Linked DNA regions of Homo sapiens. The protein of the gene in region 2 interacts with the protein of the main gene of each other region in a pairwise test. Each region holds a gene or a part of one and is shown on either strand. Other genes may lie near its edges. The genes, in order: GMCL1 and EXOC3.

What was found.
Region 1: the proteins of EXOC3 (region 2) and GMCL1 interact in binary tests that used the Homo sapiens proteins (3 or more experiments, as listed by UniProt).

The regions. Positions count from the first base shown.
Region 1 is NC_000002.12:69,839,545-69,843,365, reverse strand, and holds part of GMCL1 (germ cell-less protein-like 1), read right to left. Parts: coding exon 3,813-3,821; intron 2,425-3,812; coding exon 2,327-2,424; intron 1,884-2,326; exon of another isoform or gene 1,814-1,883; intron 279-1,813; exon of another isoform or gene 251-278; coding exon of another isoform or gene 218-250; coding exon 105-217; intron 1-104. UniProt on the Homo sapiens protein: Possible function in spermatogenesis. Enhances the degradation of MDM2 and increases the amount of p53 probably by modulating the nucleocytoplasmic transport.
Region 2 is NC_000005.10:452,857-456,677, reverse strand, and holds part of EXOC3 (exocyst complex component 3), read right to left. Parts: intron 3,309-3,821; coding exon 2,627-3,308; intron 1-2,626. UniProt on the Homo sapiens protein: Component of the exocyst complex involved in the docking of exocytic vesicles with fusion sites on the plasma membrane.

The DNA.
Region 1 (3,821 bases), on a different chromosome or scaffold from region 2:
TTTCCTTAATTCTTTCTTTCTTATAGCTATACATTCTCTTAAGAAACTAAAGCAACCAAATTCCTAAAAGTGGGATAGGAAGAAAAACAAGAAAGGCAACTCACTTTTTCTTTACAGAATCTAATCCATAGGTCCCTGCTGATGTGTAATAGCCACATACAGTTTTCACATTAACTGTTTCCTTCATTGTCTCACCACACTGCTGTATTAAACCGTCCTGTAAATATAAATAAGCACTGGAAAGGCCCATTTCACGTGGGAAAAATTAGCTCTGACAGCTTTTACATATTAAAAAGTAAAAGAAAAAAAAAAAGAAGAAAGAAAAGAAAGAAAACTCATTAAGTGCAGCAAACCTAAGTTTTTTTTTTTTTTTTTAACAAGTCCAATAAAAATACTGAAAAAAGTTCAGCAAGTATTCAACTAAATACTTGGAATTTGAAAATGGAAGGTGGGGGGGAGTAGTAAGGTAGAGAATGAATACTGCTATTCTTTTTCTTTTCTATTCTTCCCCTGTCTGAGACCTTTGCAAATTTCTTTAGCAGCATTTTGTCTGTTTTGCCATTTCTTTTTAAATTAAGAAGTCTACATAGTCAGTTAACCATGTGATGGGACTAAACTAACAGTATGCATTAGCAGAAAGTGATCAAGTTTAAAATAACTACAATATCTAAGAGATAGACTTAAAACAAGTATATTATTATTTCAAATGATTAACATTAAAGTTTTAACCTAAAATGTTTATATAGGTTTTAAGTGAACTAACTTTAATATATGGGAAGAATACTACTTTTCATTCAAATTTCTGAAATACATTCATCATGCAGGTATATTAAGTTAAAGAGTTAGTAAATCATAAAAGTAAGCAGAAGGTGAATTTAGAACAAAACCAAAAGGACCAGAGTTAGATAATAAAGTATACTTATTGGAAGTAAGTATTGAAAGGATCAAAACATTTTGAAAATCAAATGATCTCAACCAAGGATATTTAGCAAGCTATTAATACTTCAAATAAATCAGTACAAAAATACCACATAAAAGTAAACAATTTTTTAAGATTAAAATAAAACATTGACTCCATTAGGATTTTAAACTTACCTGGAAATCATTCTAGACTCCTCCCCTTTCCTCTTAACATTTAGTCTATCACCAAGTCCAGTGGATTATCCCTGAATCTCTCTGGTATCCACTTTTTCCCCTCCAAGCTTATTGCTACTACCCTACTTTCCTCCCTTGGACGAATGCAACAAGTTTTTGTCTCTAATGCTGTACTCATCTTTCCTTCAATTCATCTGTCACATTGTTACTGAAGTATTCTTTCTAAAACATAACTTCGTCTTTCCCCTGATTAAAATATTCCAAAGGTACTGTGTATGCTAAACTTCTTAGCAATGTATAGATGTATTTTCATGATCTGGCTTCTGCCCCCCTCTTCTGCAATCCTTCTTATGTTTATGTGGGAGCCATGTTTCTGTTAGAGTCTTGAATCCTCCATTATTTCACATCACTAGATCTTAGTTTACTCTGTTCTCTCTGTCTGAAATGCTCTTCCTTCCCCTCTTCTTACTTTGCAATACAAACACACTTTCAAGACTCTGTGTGAAAATGTAACTTTCGTATGTGACACCACCAGGATGAACTGACCACTCCCTTCTTTATCCATTCACTAAATGCTACAGGATGTTTATTATCATACCTATAATATTGAACAGCTCTTACTTTACCTTTGGGTTTGTATATCAACCCTCCCTCCCCTCTCCACACATACATACTATGTTGTGAACTTTTTGAAAGTAAGGATTACGTCTTAAGTTACCTTTGGCTTTCTGTGTCTAGTTTGACACAGTGCTCAACACACTTCTCTTCAATGAACAAATCTGTCATTCTGCCAGTAGATTAAAATACATATATGTGATTTATACACAATTCTTTCAAAATTAAGAGAAATTTAAATAGTAGGCATGCATGTTTATTTGAACCCATGAATGAAATTAATTGGTAATCATAAGCCATCTGCTTAATAGTCAAGTCATTAATGAAATCTGTAAATGACCTTAGACAAGTACGTTTTTTCCACATTATAGTCATACTAAGATATCTACACAGAAATGGCCTGCATTCATTTTATGCAGACATCATGACTCCCTCGGTTGTAATAAATTGCTTTTGGTTAGGCATTTTAAATGATTTATAATAAATGTCATATTTATACATTTCATTTTTATTTAAAAACTCCAAAAAAGCTAAGCTTTATTTTTGTTTTTGGAGTACACACTTTGAGACAAAGATTATTATTCTGAACCTTTCTTCGAATAACGTGCATACTTACCAACTGCAGCAAACAAGCTGCTGCCAAAATGGCAACAACTCGACTGGGCTTTATCAAGACATCATCTCGATACAGTGAACCAAATGCAACCTGCAGTGCTGAAAGCAAGGTACACATGTAGGATGAAATAATATTTATATCTATTACAAGTGTTATACAAATAACAACAACGACTGTCTTCACACACAAAGACATCCGTCTAAATGTGGCATGCACATAAAAGGATAACAGAAGTATCTCTAATTAAAACGCTAGTAATGGTTACTGGTTGACACTGTTAATTTAATAACAAGGTTATAAATTTCTGTTTATTCTACCAAATCTAGCTGCATTCTTCTAACATGTAATCTTGACATCAGTGGTCACAACCAAGATGCCTTGCAAGAAGTTGTATAAGATACTCCTCAGTAGACCAATCGTTAAGTACAAATACGCAGACTCAAAGATAATCTTAACCCGGCTGCTTTCAGCACTCCACCACTGAGAAATGTGGTACAGCTCCTGAGTCCTGTCCATGCCACACTCATTCCCAGCCCCCACAGTGATCTATGCCTGTTCATCCTTCCTCCACTGCCACTGTTATGAATGTCCCACATGGTTTGCTTTGTAAATATTCTTTTTTTTTTTTTTGAGATGGAGTCTCGCTCTGTCGCCCAGGCTGGAGTGCAGTGGCGCGATCTCGGCTCACTGCAAGCTCTGCCTCCCGGGTTCACGCCATTCTCCTGCCTCAGCCTCCCAAATAGCTGGGACTACAGGTGCCTGCCACCACGCTTGGCTAATTTTTTGTATTTTTTTAAGTAGAGATGGGGTTCACCATGTTAGCCAGGATGGTCTCGATCTCCTGACCTTGTGATCCACCCACCTTGGCCTCCCAACGTGCTGGGATTACAGGCTGTAAATATTCTTAACTAAAGTATTTCTTTGCCTTTGTATCGCACCAGGTACTTCCATGTGGACCACCAATGAGGGGAGCAGCAAGAGCACTGGAATGGGAATGAGGAGAGCTGTAGTCTGACACAGGCTCACTAAACTGCTCTGAGATCCAAAATAAGTCCCTTAACTCCTCTGAGCCTCAGCTTCCTCAACTAAGGATTCTTTTAGCTCTAAAACAATATTTTTATTTATTGTTCCCAGAAAACATCTTCATACATAGGGAATAATCAGTATTATTTATCAGATTTTCTATGTAATTAAAAAAAAAAATGGTCATACTTTTCCTTCCTCCATCCTACATCTTCCATATCCCAGGTGGGCATATTTACAAAGATAAGTAAACAAACTGATAAGGCCCAAATGACAAAACAGATTAGTGATAAGATGGACAGAACTGATAAACTATGGTGTAAATCAACATCAAATTATCACCTTGAGGTGATAAAAGGAGTTTTCTAGACTACAAGGCTGGAAGGAATTATTTATCTTCTACCAGAAGAATAAGATTATGTTTTTACGATTGTTGCATAATAGTAATTATTGTGGTAGTTACCTTCTACAT
Region 2 (3,821 bases):
TGAGTCCCTCCAACCGGGGAAAGTGCAGGGCAGGGGCCGAGGGCTTTGGGGTCTCTGTGGCATCACCCACTGGCTCCGAGACCACTTGAGTCCCTCCAACCCCAGCTTCACCCTGCTGCGCCAGCTTCATGAGGTGCTGGGGCTCAAATGTGGAAGAGCCTTTCCTGTGGGGAAGACGTGTGTTCTATTCACTGCACCTGCAGAGCCGAGGCAGGGCCTGGCAAACAGGAGGCGCTGAATAAACAAACGTACTCAGTCAAAACGACAAGCACAGCCGCCCCCACAGCCACGGGCGCCACGTCCACTGACTCAACCAAACACAAACTGAAAGTATTTGGGAAAAACAACAATAAAAAATAATAAAAATTTCAAAAAATATAGAACAACTATTTCCATAGCATTCACATTGTATTTAGTCTTATAAGTAATCTAGAAATGATTTAGAGCATGAAGGAGAATGTACGCAGGTTACGTGCAAACACTATACCCTTTTATAAAGGGGACTTGGGCTACGGAGGATTTTGATAGCCAAGGGGGGTCCTGGAATCCCTCCCCATTGAGTATGGAGGGGCAGCTGTGCTGTCCTTTGGAAACAAGCCACTGCAGTCCACATCAATATGCTCTGCAGACGGTGATGACTGGAACGTACAATACAGGACATTACTGATAAAAACGCATCCGCAAGAACAGGCAAAACTACGTGAGGTCTACTGTCCAGAAGACAGGAAACACATGCTACATTTCAGGAAAAGTTTTCATTAGAAAGTTATTATCAGCCGGGCATGGTGGCTCACGCCTGTAATCCCAGCACTTTGGGAAGCCGAGACGGGCGGATCATGAGGTCAGGAGATTGAGACCATCCTGGCTAACACAGTGAAACCCCATCTCTATTAAAAATACAAAAAAATTAGCGGGGCATGGTGGCACGCGCCTGTAGTCCCAGGTACTCGGGAGGCTGAGGCAGGAGAATGGCGTGAAGCCGGGATACACCTACTATGTACCCACAAAAATTAAAATTAAAAAGTTTTTTTAAGTCTAAGGTTTGACCACTCAGAAAATTCTTTCAACTCACACGCCTCATGCTATGTTCCGTAAATACGTTCTCAGAGTAACACTGAATAAAATGATTAAGAGCCAGTCCACTATAAGAAATCCGAGAGCTTCCTAAGTGAAAAAGTACTTCCTAAAATTCTGCACATTTTAAAAGACTTTTATTTAATCTGGATTATTTTTCCCAAGAACCTCAATTCCGTGTGAGAATGTTTCTAGTGGAGCACTTCAACCTCCCCTGAGAAAGGCCGGGGTGATGGAACTCACGAGACTCCCCAAGGACAGAAAAACACTCACAACGTGGAAAGACAAAATCAAGACACAAACTGTGCAAGGTGCACACATGCACAGCCCAGCCTAGTGGCCATGGCCCGGGAGGGCCCAGGGATGGGACTGGAATCCAGCTTCCCACTCACTGGCCGTGTCCCCTGCCTCCTGCCTCATGGGCTGCTGACACACACCAGGCACGGAGGGGGAGACCTGCACTGTCAAGGCTACAGAATGGGCGGCCATGAGGATGAGCGGCAGCCAGGGGAGGTGAGTCCAGGGCTGTGCACAGAGAGCCACAGTTGCACAGAGCGCCACGGTTGCACAGAGAGCCACCATTGCACAGAGCGTCACGGTGACCATTCTCTGCAGGGGGCGCTTCCTTTCTCTTCTGTCCTTCTGTATTGAAATGCAAATTCTCTATAAGCAGATACCAGTAAACAAAGCACACAAAAAAATATGCCTTACTGCTAAAAAAAAAAAAAAAAAAAATGAGGTTTATTCAATTTCTCCACTGCAGTGACAAGATGGGCGGAAGAAAAAAAAGAAGAAGAAGAAATTCCAATACATTACTTAATATTATTTTCTAACCATGAAACCATGGAAAATTGAAATAAATTTTCATTTCGGCTACCTAATCTTAAAGAATTTCAGAATACCCCCACCACTGCACCATTTTTCAACACTACTTCAAATTAATCCACGCACAGAGTGGTTCATGGTCCCTTAAGTGAAGTGACAAAACCTCGTACTAGGATACAAAAAGGATGATGGAGTTTCCTCGAACTATCTAGACTTGTAACTGTTTATTTTTGAAAGACTCACTGCTATAGGATATTGGTGAAGAGAAACCAAACCCGGGATGCTGGAAGCCAGGGAGGTGATGTAGTGGTCTCCTCCCCAGTGGGGTGGCCATGTGCCAGTCCCAGCCCCGCCTGGGACCATGTGTCCTCACCTGTAAAATGGGGTAACAACACACCTGCCTCAGGGTGTCACTGCAAGGAAGCAAGTCAGCACACGGTGAGCACAGGAAACAGGCCCAGCCCAGAGCTGCACCCTGTCAAGCTCAACGGGGGCTGGAGGCCAAGAGCAGAGATCCCTCCCAAGCACAACAGTGTTCAAACACCAGAGGCTGGGCACCAGCAGGCAGAGCAGAAAGAAGACACCCCTGGGCTGGAAACCAAGGCTGTGGGCTCGGAGCACCTGCCCAGAGCAACACCCTGAGGTCGGCTCTCCAGCAAGCAGCTGCAGGCCCCTCTCACACACGGCTTCTACCTAAGAGCCAACACAGGCGCCAGGTTAGCTTTACCTTGTGTAGGTGTTTAAGACCCACGTCAAGAGGCTCACGATCTCATTGGCTTCCAGGTCTTCCGATGCGAGGTCCTGCATCCGCGTGCTCAGGGCTTGGTGGTACATGTTCAGGAGGTTCTTAAAGATCTCATAGTGGGGAGGAAAGCACTGAACCATCAGGTTTTTGGCGACAATGAGGTCATCCAGGACGTACTTCCTTATAATTTCCAGGTGGCGGACAAGCCACATCTTGTCAGACTCTCTGGTATCTGCCTGTGTGCCCTCAATTCTGGTGGTCACAGTCCTCTCCAAGATGGTGAACATTTTCTCCTTCCAATTCTTGGGCCTCCCAGGAGGAACAAAGCCAGTTTGCTTTTTCCGGTCAAGTATGCGCCTGTCAATTTTCTCTTCCCTTTCAATGATCCTGACAACTGAGACCAGCAAGGTGGGGTCACGGCGGACAGTGACCAGTGACCTCTGCAGCACCATCCACAGCTGCTTAGCCAGCTCATCAGAGAGCCCCTGCGTGCTGCCAAAGTAGCCATGGATGAGGGTCATGTCACGCGTGTTCCCACTGTCCATGCGGTACTGCTCGTACATCAGCCCGTCCCGGGAGCACTCCAGGTCCATCAGCTTCCGGTGGGCTTGCAGGAGTGCCCCTTGTTCAATTAGGTCCTGGGTCTCCCTCACAATCTCAGGCACTAGGGAGAAGGCACAAGACACAACATAAACAACCACCACCACATAAAAGGCTGCCTGCATGCGGTGTTCTGGGAACACGGCAGAGCAGGAAGCCACATCTCCCTAGCTAACAACAACTGCAATGGCAGGATGTGTCTGAGGTAACTATCTTTGGAACTCTGGAGTCTATTAAAGGCATAAATGGTAAACTGTGGTTAACTGTGGTCATTTGCAGCTCTCAGCTGGGCAGTGGCTACCGAGGCCCCACCTCCCACCCCGCAGGCAGCTGTGCATGTGCTGATGTGTTCCTAAAGCTGCCTGCACACAGCCTGCAGCCTGGCTGGGCAAAAAGAACCCTGTCCTCCACACCGGAGATCTGTACTCAGATCACTGACTGCTGCTTCTGACCACAGAGGTGCGAAGAGGTAAGTGGCCACTGTTGCATCTTCCCCTGTTCACAGGTCCCTCCTCACCCCCACAGAGCTCCAGGGAATTTAAAGGGCCAATGTCTTCACCACCCCCTTCATCTGTTC